3 separate regions of the Homo sapiens genome follow, and all the other regions are reported to be linked to region 2. The links are microRNA targets in miRTarBase. Many come from high-throughput screens and were not tested one by one. Region 2 holds a microRNA gene; each other region holds the end of a gene's coding sequence.
The links. Region 2 holds the annotated microRNA hsa-miR-4793-3p (UCUGCACUGUGAGUUGGCUGGCU, at 1,054-1,076, shown strand). A microRNA usually pairs through its seed, bases 2 to 8, with sites in the 3' UTR of a target mRNA and lowers its output. Matches are read on the target gene's strand: a 7mer-m8 pairs with bases 2 to 8, a 7mer-A1 pairs with bases 2 to 7 and ends in A, and an 8mer does both.

Region 1: the mRNA of IMP4 is a reported target of hsa-miR-4793-3p. The part of its 3' UTR that is shown has no 7-base or 8-base seed match.
Region 3: the mRNA of CCT4 is a reported target of hsa-miR-4793-3p. The part of its 3' UTR that is shown has no 7-base or 8-base seed match.

What each region holds. Positions count from the first base shown.
Region 1 is chr2:130,346,167-130,350,131 of GRCh38, forward strand. IMP4 (IMP U3 small nucleolar ribonucleoprotein 4) reads left to right here. Exons shown (of 9, transcript NM_033416.3): 8 at 35-108; 9 at 190-1,801. The coding sequence ends at 302. Among named protein-coding and RNA genes, the nearest start is that of IMP4, 5.3 kb to the left of the region's middle.
Region 2 is chr3:48,640,777-48,645,276 of GRCh38, reverse strand. MIR4793 (microRNA 4793) reads left to right here and starts at 997; the gene lies at 997-1,083. CELSR3 (cadherin EGF LAG seven-pass G-type receptor 3) reads left to right here. Exons shown (of 35, transcript NM_001407.3): 25 at 68-242; 26 at 449-561; 27 at 982-1,061; 28 at 1,600-1,723; 29 at 2,194-2,310; 30 at 2,393-2,541; 31 at 2,810-2,919; 32 at 3,268-3,426; 33 at 3,753-3,953.
Region 3 is chr2:61,865,131-61,869,095 of GRCh38, forward strand. It overlaps CCT4 (chaperonin containing TCP1 subunit 4), which reads right to left. Exons shown (of 14, transcript NM_006430.4): 14 at 2,955-3,576. The coding sequence ends at 3,562. Among named protein-coding and RNA genes, the nearest start is that of FAM161A, 13 kb to the left of the region's middle.

The sequences.
Region 1 (3,965 bases), not on the chromosome of region 2:
TGCTTGCCGTTGACCCACAGCTGTTCCCTCCCAGGCACCATGTGTATAAGAAGACAGACCACCGCAACGTGGAGCTCACTGAGGTCGGGCCCCGCTTTGAGCTGAAGCGTGAGTTTGAGGCTGAATCCCGTGTCTGGGGTGGGGAGGGGAGGCTGGCTGTGCCGGGGCTGATGCCATCCCTGCCTGCAGTGTACATGATCCGTCTGGGCACGCTGGAGCAGGAGGCCACAGCAGACGTGGAGTGGCGCTGGCACCCTTACACCAATACCGCACGCAAGAGAGTCTTCCTGAGCACCGAGTGAGCACACTCACCACTCAGTCAGGACATGGACTTGGAACTCAGGATGGGGCTGTCATAGACAGACCCACCAGTAGGAACTGTCACAGAATGGCCTGCTGAACTGGGATGTGGAACTGTGGCGGGTGGAGAGGTCTGAATAAACCGTCTGTGTCATGGCCCCGCCTGCCTCTGAGTGGTCAGGCCAAGTCTGCAGGGCAAAGCCCATGGGATCCCTTTGGGTGGGGACCTGATGGCTGTGGGACGTGCTTGGGCCTGGAGTCAGTGTGGGGGTTAACAGAGAGAGAGATTTGATGCTAACGTCCCCTCAAGAGTGAGGGTCATATGAGCTCTTCAGCAGGCAGATGTGGGTAGCAGGGCCAGCCTGTGTCAGGGGCAGCCCACCAAGTTAACTCACTGAGTGGAAGCCGCCAGTGTGCCAACGCGGAGGGGACAGGCCACACCCAGTGCTCAGCAGCTGATTCCTCATGTAAGTGGCATCATGTGGTATTTGTTTTGTGTCTGGCTTATTTCTATTAACATAATGTTCTCCAGGTTCCTCCATGTTATTGCAAATGATAGGATTTCTTTCCTTGTAAAAAATAACATGCCACATTTTCTTACCAATCCGTCCACCAATAGACACTTAGGTCGTTTTCATAGTTTGGCAGTTGTGGAAATGCTGCAGTAAACATGGGAGTATAGCTATCTTTTGAAGATAATGATTTCATCTCTTTTTTATATGTATACCCAGAAGTGGGATTGCTGCATCAAATGGTGGTTCTATTTTTAATTTTTTGAGGAACCGCCATACTGTTTTCCATAAAGGCTGTACTAATTTCCATTCTCACCAACAGTTCACTAGGGTTCCCTTTTCTCCACATTGTTGCCAACATTCTTTATCTTGTGTTTTTTAATAACAGCTATCCTAACAGGTATGAGGTGATCTCTCTCATTGCGGTTTTGATTTGCATTTCCCTAACGGTTGGTGATACTGAGCATTTTTGCATACACCGGGTCATTTGTTCTTTGTTGTTGACTTGAGTCCCTTATATAGTTTGGATACTGCTGTGGCCTGAATGTTTGTGTCCCCCAAAAATTCGTATATTGAACTCTCATCCCTAAGGTCAACAGTTTAGGGAAGCGATTAGGTCCTGAGGACTCTGCCCTCTTGCATAGAATTAGTGCTCTTATAAAAGATGCCCGAGGGAGCTCTTTTGCCCCTCCTGCCATGTGAGGACACAGCTAGAAGCTACCATCTGTGAACCAGGAAGCCCCCCTCACCAGACACTGAATCTGCTGGAGCCACCATCTTGGACTTCCCAGCCTCCAGAGCTGTGAGAAATAAATGCCTGTTGTTTAAGCTACCCAGTCTGTGGTATTTTGTTAGAACAGCCCAAGTTGAGACAGATAGTAACCCTTTACCAGATACATGGTTTGCAAATAGTTTTTCCCACTCTGTAGATATAGCCATTGAGAAGCTCCTCAAGATAGACATTAAATACAAAGAAGCATGGTGTGAAACGCCATGTGTGATATGCTGTCAGTGTGCAAAAGAGGCAGGGAGGGCCCTGCACTTGCATGTATGTGCTGCATCATCCCCAGAAGGCTGAACTCCTTGCTGGTGCACTGGGTACCCAGGGAGGAGGGAGGTTCTTTACTGTAATGTTAGCAGGTGAACATTGTATCCACTTGACCACGAAGAACTGCCCTCTTGAGTTCTCTGCCCATTTTTTGGGGGGGTACAGGCGGACACTTGGAAGACATCCTTATGATAAAAAAGCATACAGAAGGCCTGGTGCAGTCACTCACACCTGTAATAATCCCAGCGCTTTGGGAGGTCAAGGCAAGGAGGTTCACTTGAAGTCAGGAGTTTGAGACCAGCCTGGGCAATACAGGGAGAGCTCATCTCTACAAAACATTTTTAAAAACACACACAAGTGCACATGGTGAAAAGTAAACCATCATCCTCCTTCCACCCCAAAGAACCCATCCCTAGTCTCCAGAGGTCATCAGTATTGACTTTTTAAAGAAGCTGGACTGATATCTTTTATTCATGGTATCCATAAGTTTGTTGACTGTTAATTATATTTTAACCTGAAAGGGATCATGTTGTGCACACTACTCTGAACCTTGCATCTTACCCTTTAATGACAAATGGATGCCACAGGGCTCCAAGGCTGTCTAGTACACATGGATCTGCCTCCTTCCTTGTGGCTACATTGTTGGGTGGCTTCCTGTTTTTACCCCCACAAATACTGCTTCGAGAGCATCATTGAACATACTTCTGTGCATATTTATGCAAGTGTATCTGATGCATACATCCCTACAAGAGGAATTCGGGCGTGGTGGCTCACACCTGTAATCCCAGCACTTCGGGAGGCTGAGGCGGGCGGATCACCTGAGGTCCGGAATTCAAGACCAGCCTGGCCAACATAGTGAAACCCCATCTCTACTAAAAATACAAAAAATTGACCTGGCATGGTGGCGGGTGCCTGTAATCCCAGCAGCTCAGGAGGCTGAGGCAGGAGAATCGCTTGAACCCGGGAAGTAGAGGTTGCAGTGAGCCAAGATCACGCCATTGCACTCCAGCCTGGGCAACAAGAGCAAGACTCCGTCTCAATAAAAAGAAAACACTAAAATAAAATGATAGTAGAGGTTGTGTCTCTCCACAGGCACCATCACAAGATGTGAGCACCTGCTCCCCAGGTGAGCCCTGGGCATCATCAGAGGTTTTAACCTCTGTCACGCACTAGGTGCAAAATGTTTCCCCAATTGCATTTGCATTTCTTTAGTTACTCTGGAGGTTGTGCCTCTTTTCAAATACTTACTGGCCTTGTGTGTTATGTATTTTCTGTGATGGGTCTGCTCTCCTTATAGATGCATTTGTTCACCTCTAGATTGATTGTTTTAAATCTTGTTAGTTGTGGAAAATTTGAAACATACAAGAGCAGAGAAGATGGTATAGTGAGTCGCTGAGCCGGTTTTGATGTGAGCCAGTCTTCATAGCTCACCCACTCCCTGTATCCACTCCACCAGTTTTTAAAGTAGATCTCAGACATCAGAGCATTTCATCCATATGTATTTCCATGTATATCTCTAAAAGATAAGGACTCAACAACAACAAAAAAATTATTACACATAAAATTATCAATGATCATTCCTTTATATCATCAGATATCCACTTAATGTTCAGCTTGCCTTGATTAGAGTGTGCTTGTTTCGACTAAGATCGACATCAGGTCCATTCATTGCAAATAATTGACAAGTCTTTTAAAAACAGCTTTATTGCGATAGTCAACATATTACACAATTCACAGCGCAGGTTGAACTCACAGCCTTGTGCGCCCGTCCCTGTGCATCAATGATTTTTTAAAAATCATATTCATAGGGCTGTGTAACCATCACCACAATCTAATTTTGGAACATTTTTTGTCCCCCTCTGCCCCCACTGCCCCGGAGAGAAACCCCATACGCATTAGCTGTCACTCTAATCCCCTCCCTCCCACCAGGCCCCAGCCCCTCTGGCAACCACTAGTCTACTTTTGGCCAGACTCTGCTGAGACATTAGAACAGGATTTATTTATTTATTTTATTTTATTTTATTTTTGAGACGGAGTCTCGCTCTGTCGCCCAGGCTGGAGTGCAGTGGTGCAACCTCGGCTCACTGCAAGCTCCGCCTCCCGGG
Region 2 (4,500 bases):
GATGCCTGGGGTAGGGGTCAGAGGTGGGTGAGGCAGGAGAGGTCCTGACACGCCCCCCTGCCCTCAGCTGGTGTGCACTGCAGTCGCCATCCTCCTGCACTACTTCTTCCTCAGCACCTTCGCGTGGCTCTTCGTGCAGGGGCTGCACCTCTACCGCATGCAGGTTGAGCCACGCAACGTGGACCGCGGCGCCATGCGCTTCTACCATGCCCTGGGCTGGGGCGTCCCTGCTGTGCTGCTGGGTGAGGGCTGTGACCCCCAACCTCCAACCATCACATGGCCTGACCCCTGACCCTGTCCCCACTCCTGCTCATGACCCCCAACCTCAAACCCCAAGCCATCTATTCATGGGGTTGCTGCTCTGCCCTCACCCATGCTTTCTCCCATACATGGGCTGGTCAGCAGCTCTGGAACACACACCCTCAGTCCTACCCTTTCTCTTCCCAAGGCCTTGCTGTGGGCCTGGACCCTGAGGGCTATGGGAACCCTGACTTCTGCTGGATCTCAGTCCACGAGCCCCTCATCTGGAGCTTTGCTGGCCCTGTTGTCCTGGTCATAGTGGTGAGTGCCCTGGACTTGGTGCCCCCTCTGTACTTCCCTCCCTCATTGGGGGAGGAGGTGCAGTGGACTCAGCTGAGGGCGGTCAGGTGGCATTCTGCAGGCTTCCTGGGCTCGGCCTTCATTTTTTCTGTCCTCTGGTCAGTAGCCACCCCCATTCAACTGGCATGGAGATGGGGGCGCGGGGTCAGAGATTCAGTTGCCTGTCCCTGCCTCTGTCTCTGCTTCTCTCTCTCAGTCCCTCTCTGGTTCCCAATTTCTTTTTCTGTGATGCTAAGCTCCTTTGGTGTGTGTGTATATGTGTGAATTTCTCACTGGTTCTGCCTCTCTCCGTGAATCTTAGTCTCTCTCTGTCTCTCATTGCCTCTCTCTCTCTCTCTCTCTCTGCCCTGCCCGGCCCCACATGTCTGGCCGTGGGTCCAGATGAACGGGACCATGTTTCTCCTCGCTGCCCGCACATCCTGCTCCACAGGGCAGAGGGAGGCCAAGAAGACCTCTGCACTGTGAGTTGGCTGGCTGGAGGAAGGGGGCTTCTCAGGATGGCAGGTCCCTCCTGGGTGGGGTCTGGGGCCCCCAGATCTTCCCTGGTGCAGGTTGGGCTCCAAGTTCTAGATGAAGGAATGAAGTCACACCTGCCCTGACCTGTGGTCCCTCTCTGGCGCCCTCGCTATACTGTAGCCCCACATGTGCTTCTGCCCTGCTGTCTCTCCTTGTCCTCTGGGTCCCCCCAGAGTCTCCCATGGCCTGGGTGGCTCACTTTGCCCCCTGCCCTGTGTGTTCCCACCTGTCTTCCGTGCCCTCCCTTGTGGCTCCCATACCCCTGTGTTTTCCCCACGTGTCCTCATGGCTCTTTGACTGCTCTCCTGTTTCTTTGTGGGACCTCCCATCTCCCCCAGTGTCCTCCAGAGACCTCCATGTTCCCGTGTGAGTTCCTTTTTTTCACGTTTCGTGTGTGGCCCCTGTGTGTCCTCCCGTGTTCCCTGCATGAGTCCTACATGAGCCTTGCATGTCCTCCTGTGTCTTCCCATGTCCCCACAGCAGGACCCTTCGCAGCTCCTTCCTGCTGCTTCTGCTGGTCAGTGCCTCCTGGCTCTTTGGGCTCCTGGCAGTCAACCACAGCATCCTAGCCTTCCACTACCTCCATGCTGGACTCTGCGGCCTCCAGGTGACTCTGGTGCCCCTCCCTTGCCCCAGAACCAGGTGGGCCTTCAGTAGGCTGGGGCCATCCCTAGGCAGACGTTGACCCTAGGCCTGGAGCTGACTCTTACTGGATAACTTTGCCAGGCTGGGTACTACCCCAGACCAGACACTGGCCCTAGCTGCTGCCCCCAGGCCTGGAGCTGACTCTAACTTAGGCACTGATCCCAGACTGAGTGCTGATCTTGGATCGACCTTCACCAACACCAAGGCTCCCGACCCCTTGCTGATCCACACCGACCTTACAGACTCCAGCCACTCCTGCTGCTCCATCCTCTCCCCTGCTGACCTTCCCCAACTCCCTTACTGAGTCCCGCATGGGCTCCTCACTGACCCACACTAGCCTACAGTGACTGACCCCATTGCTGACCCACAGTGACTTATACTGGTCCCTGATTGATCCCTGCCGACTCTGCTTTGACCCTCGCTGACCCACAGGGCCTGGCGGTGCTGCTGCTCTTCTGTGTCCTAAATGCAGATGCTCGGGCTGCCTGGATGCCAGCCTGTCTGGGCAGGAAGGCAGCGCCTGAGGAGGCAAGGCCAGCACCTGGGCTGGTGAGTCGGGATGGGGGCCCTGAGAAGCCAGAGTTTTAGGCTGCTTCAGGGTTAGCTCACACTCTGTCCCTACCACCCCCAGGGACCTGGGGCCTACAACAACACGGCTCTCTTTGAGGAGAGTGGCCTCATCCGCATCACTCTGGGCGCCTCCACCGTCTCCTCTGTGAGCAGTGCCCGCTCCGGCCGGACCCAGGACCAGGACAGCCAGCGGGGCCGCAGCTACCTCAGGTGAGAGGAAGAGCCTCCTTGTGAGGGAACACTCAGCTTAGTCCAGCCCCACCTTACCAGGGCTTGGCTGACCAGGTCCTAGGGCGGGTGGCTCCACCCATCTTGGCCATCTGGGGCCCTGCTTCTGCCTCTGCCCTAAATGCTTCCCACCACACACACCCAGGGATGCCATTCCACCCGCAGCTGGCTGTGCACTCAAAGACACTCCAGCCTCCAAGGCACCCCATCACATCCCTCTTTCATGGTGGGGGGGCTCCTGCTTTTCCAGGGACAATGTCCTGGTTCGACATGGCTCAGCCGCTGACCACACTGACCACAGCCTCCAGGCTCATGCTGGCCCCACTGACCTGGACGTGGCCATGTTCCATCGAGATGCTGGTGGAGTTGGGGCCTGGGGCAGGGAGGAGGGAGGCAGAGGATCTCTCCCCATCCCCTTTTCTTCTACCCCATACTGGGAGCAGTGGCTGACTGGGGTGGGACGATCTCCCCCAGGGTCCCTGCCTCAGGAGGCACCTACCTCTCCAGCCCTGGTTCTCCCAGTCCACTCCTGATTCGTCCTTCCCTCTGATAAGTCCCAGCCCTTCTGCTGCTACCTCCACTTCAAGCCCCGGTTCCTGTCCCCAACCCTAACCCCCTTGCCGTACCCACCTCTAGACCCTCAACTCCAAATTCCCTTATCTCCAAGTCCCTTACCTCTGAAAGTACTTCTGACTTTCCCAACTCCAGGCGCAGACTCCGACTCTGACAGTGACCTGTCCTTGGAGGAGGAGAGGAGTCTCTCCATTCCATCTTCAGAAAGCGAGGACAATGGCCGGACGCGGGGGCGCTTCCAACGGCCACTCTGCCGAGCAGCCCAGAGTGAGAGGCTCCTCACCCACCCCAAAGGTGCCAGGCGCCCTCTGACCCCTTGGGTGACCAAGGGATGCCCCATTTGTTATCCCTCCAGCTCCCCATCTTTCCTGCGGTTGGGGTTCATCCTGGTCTTTCTGACCCCTCAGTCATCAGGTTCCCCAACTTTTAGTCTCTGTCCACCTCCAGTTAAGGGGAGGGAGCTCACCAGTCACCCCCACCCATTGATCTCTGAGGAGATACCCTCCTGTTCCCACCTCTGCTCAATGAGAACAGCCAGGGTTTCAAGGGTCATTAGGGTCAGGGGTCATGAGTCACTGGGATCAACCCAGAAGCTCCTGTAACCTGACCTGGCTCCACAGATGTGGATGGCAATGACCTCCTGTCCTACTGGCCAGCCCTGGGGGAGTGCGAGGCAGCCCCCTGTGCTCTGCAGACTTGGGGCTCTGAAAGGCGCCTGGGGCTGGACACCAGCAAGGATGCAGCTAACAACAACCAGCCAGACCCGGCCCTGACCAGTGGGGATGAGACTTCTCTGGGCCGGGCCCAGCGCCAGAGGAAAGGTACAGTCCCTGAGCCCTGGCCCACACCGCAGACACGCTGGGGGCTGCTCATGCCCTGAGCCAAGGGATTGCAGCTTCCTCATCCCAAACTGAGAGCTCTTCTTACTCTGACCTAGGGCGCTTCTGCTTCTCTAGCCTGCTTCACGGTCCTCAGGGACTGCTCCTGTCCTGACCTGGGAATTCTCTGTCCCCCTCTACCCTGGCCAGCACCACAGGGGGACCACAGGCGACCACTCCTGCCCCAGCCCATCTGTTTTTCAGAGACCCTAGGAGCTGCTTCCCCCTGCCCCCCACCCAGATCCCAGAGCCCGTGCTCTGATCTGGAAGATTTCTGCCCCCTACTCTGCTTTTATGGGGACCCGGAGAAGAGGTTTCTGCCCTCACCCTTGCATCACAGGGACCTGGGGACTGCTCCTGTCCAACCCGGGGGGTTCCTGCATTTCAGCCAGGCCTGCATTGTCAGGACCTGAGGGCTGCCCCTCTTCTGACCTCAGGGAGTTTGCCCCATCCCCTGCACCATGAGACCTGCCCGCCCTCCCCCTGCCCC
Region 3 (3,965 bases), not on the chromosome of region 2:
GCCAAGGGATATTTGGTTAAAACATTTCTGGGAGTGTCTGTGAAGGTGTTTCTGAAGGAGATTTAACATTTGAATTGGTGGACTGAATAAAGCAGATAGCCCTCCCCAGTGCTGGTCAGCATCATCCAATCTGTTGAGAGGCTGAGTAAGAAAAAGGTGGCTGGGTGTGGGCTCAGGCTGGGCATGGTGGCTCACACCTGTAATCCCAGTATTTTGGGAGGCTGAGGCAGGTGGATCAACTGTGGTCAGGAGTTCAAGACCAGCCTAGGCAACATGGTGACACCCCGTCTCTACTGAAAAAAAAAAAACAAAAAACCAAAAATGAGCTAGATGTGGTGGCACGTGCCTGTAATCCCAGCTACTAGGGAGGCCGAAGCACGAGAATGGCTTGAACCTGGGAGGCGGAAGTTGCAGTGAGCTGAGATCACACCATTGCACTCCAGCCTGGGCGACAAGAGCAAAACTCCATCTCAAAAAAATTAAAAAAAAAAAAAAGACACTCTAGAGCAAGCTTGTCTAACCTGCAGCCCACAAGCCACAAGCAGCCCAGGACAGCTTTGAATGTGACCCAACACAAATTCGTAAATTTTCTTAAAACATTTTATATATGTATTTTTTTTTTTTTTAGCTCATTAGCTATTGTTAGTATTAGTGTATTTTATGGTTTGGCCCAAGAGAATTCTTCTTCCAACGTGGCCCAGGGAAGCCAAAAGATTGGACACCCCTGCTCTAGAGATTGTCAGAAAAATCTGAACACGGATTGGGTGTTGGACATTACAGAACTGTTTTCTTACAATTGTTTTCTTTTTTCTTGAGATGGACGTATTAATACAGTACTTCATAACCATTTAACATGGGTAAAACTTATTAGGCTTCCTTTGTGCTAAAGTTTTTGGGTGTTGTCTCCATTTTGCATACTGCAATGACTTCTGTTACCTAACTATGTAACAAAAGGTCAATTAATAGCTAAATCTAAGTGGAGGGTAATACAATGTTCATACTACTCTTGAAACCTCCCCAGTAGCTGGGATTACAGGTGCCTGCCACTATGCCCGGCTTTTTTTTTTTTCCTACCTTTAGTAGAGACGGGGTTTCACCATGTTGGCCAGGCTGGTCTCAAACTCCTGACCTTGTGATCCACCCGCCTCGGCCTCCCAAAGTGCTGGGATTACAAGCGTGAGCAACCACGTCCGGCTGGAAGAATTCGAAGAATGCTGCTATACACACTATTTGTATTATTTAGGCATAACCTATGAACAAAAAGCTTTGTGCTGTTAGGCTGGGCATGGTGGCTCATGCCTGTAATCCTAGCACTTTGGGAAGCCAAGGTAAGGATAGCTTGAGCCCAGGAATTAAACGCCAGCCTGGGTAACACAGCGAGACCTCGTCTCTGTGAAAAAAAAATACAAAAATTAGCCAGGCATGGTGGTGTGCGCCTGTAGTCCCAGCTACTAGGGAGGCTGAGGTGGAAGGACTGCTTGAGCCTTGGAAAGTTGAGGCTGTAGTGAGCCATAGTTGTGCCAATGCATTCCAGCCTGGGCGACAGAGCAAGACCCTGTGTCAAAACACATAAAACAAAAACACTTGGCTGGGCATGGTGACTCATGCCTGTAATCCCAGCACTTTGGGAAGCCGAGATGTGCGGATCACGAGGTCAGGAGTTCAAGACCAGCCTGGCCAACACGGTAAAACCCCATCTCTACTAAAAATACAAAAACTGGCCGGGTGTGGCAGCGTGCACCTATAATCCCAGCTACTCGGAAGACTGAGGCAGAACTGCTTTAAACCTGGGAGGCGGAGGTTGTGGTAAGCCAAGATGGCACCATTGCACTCCAGCCTGGGTGAGAGCGAGACTCTGTCTCAAAAAAACAAACAAAAAAAACTTTCTGCTATCTGGGTGCAGTGGCACAGGCCTGTAGTGCTAGTTACTTGGGAGGCTGTGGCAAACTTGAGCCCAGGAGTTTGAAGTTATAGTGAGCTATGATCTTCACACATGAATAGCCACCACTCCTGCCGAAGCAACATGGCAAGGCACTGCCACTGAAAAAAAAAACATCTTGTGCTGAGTAACTGACAGATGTTTAAATATGGATTAGGTATTTTGACTTATGATTTTAGGATATACCTGATTCAACTGTTTTATGGCAGCTAGAATTAACATATTTCACGTTCTTATCAAAGTGAGGAATAAATTGAAGTACTAAATTCCAGATAATACAGAAATCTTTATCTAAAAATATTAGACACTTACCAAGTTAGTTAACTATTTCAGTTTCATGATGAACACAAAAGGAGCTTCAGACTGTTTGGCTGAAATCCTTTCTCCACAATGCTAGAGGGGCCTAGTTGCTTTCATGAAACTCCTTGTGAAATACTCAAGGAGATGGTAGCTGAAATACCAGATTGTTTAGGCCAAACTTTTGATCGACCTTAAAAGGTCTAGCCTTTACTCAAAGGTATGAAAGCTTTTACAAAAAGAGTGCTTGACTAAGTGCCTTTAATCCCAGGGCTTTAGAAGACCAAGGCAGGACTGTTTAAGGCCAGGAGTTCAAAACCAGCCTGGGCAACATAGTGGGATCCCATTTCTGAAAAAAAAAAAAAAAAATATATATATATATATATATACACACACATATATATATAGGGATGGTGGCACATACCTGTAGCTGTAGCTATTCTAAAGAATAAAGCAGGATTCTTTATTCTTAGCTCAAGTCCAGGAGTTCAAGGCTGCAGTGACCTATGATCACGCCACTGCACTCCAGCCTGGGTGATGAGCTTTTCTCTAAAAAAAAAAAAATCACTAGACTTCAATATGTGCGAAATAAATAGATTGGAAGGTGGCTAAAGGGAAGAGACTAGTTACAGATTTGACACTCTTCATGGTGAGATGACACTGATGCTTAGATCAGGACAGTGGCAATCAAGATGTTTAAAATCACTGGAACAAGACATTAGTTAAGAAACCCTTTTGTTTAAGTAAGATTTGCTACATATATGTATACACTTTTATTTGCAGAAGGAATCCAACACAGCAGTCATTATTACTGGGAAAAGGAATTAGGATGATAGGATAAAAGGAGGCTTTCATTTTTCATTCTCTTTCTGTACCATTAACTTATTTTTGTTTTAACTGGGCAGCCTCCCAAGCCAAAGTAGGTTCAGAGAGGTGCCACTTGGATCATTAACTTTTAAGACAGCATATATATTATATGTTGGTAGTTTTTAAGGCCAGGGAGCATTTATCAGTGATGAGCATATTGGGCCATTTTTTTCCTCAACATGTAAACTCACTTTTTACGCTTCTTTTATTAGTTTTTATTAGTTTTTCAAAAGTATCAGAAATAACAGAATGTTGGGAGAAGATAAATCTGCCTTTTGAAACCAAATATTTAATATTTTCATTAAATTGTTTCAATACAACTTCAGGCAAATGCCAACTGGAAGACCAAGCCCAGAAATTCAGAGGAAATAATCTTCCAAACAAGGAACACCAAGGTGATCTTCTTCCATTCCAGCCACAATACTGGTGATCATAATGGTGCTAGTCAGTTATCCAGATTATCGAGTGTTTACCTGATAAGAGAAAAACTTAGATTTCAAAACCTGTAATGACAGAATTTTAAAGCTGGAAAATGTTTAAGGCAATTAATAAAAGGAAAACCTGTATTAAGAACTGCTGTCACCTTGATGACTAGCAAATATTTATCAAAAGTAAAAACTTGGCCAGGCACGGTGGCTCATGCCTGTAATCCCAGCACTTTGGGAGGCTGAGGCAGGTGGATCACAAGGTAAGAAGTTCGAGACCAGCCTGACCAACATGGTGAAACCCCGTCTCTACTAAAAATACAAAAATTAGCTGGGTGTGGTGGCACATGCCTGTAATCCCAGCTACTTGGGAGGTGGGAGACTGAGGCAAGAGAATCGCTTGAACCCAGGAGGCGGAGGTTGCAATGAGCCGAGAT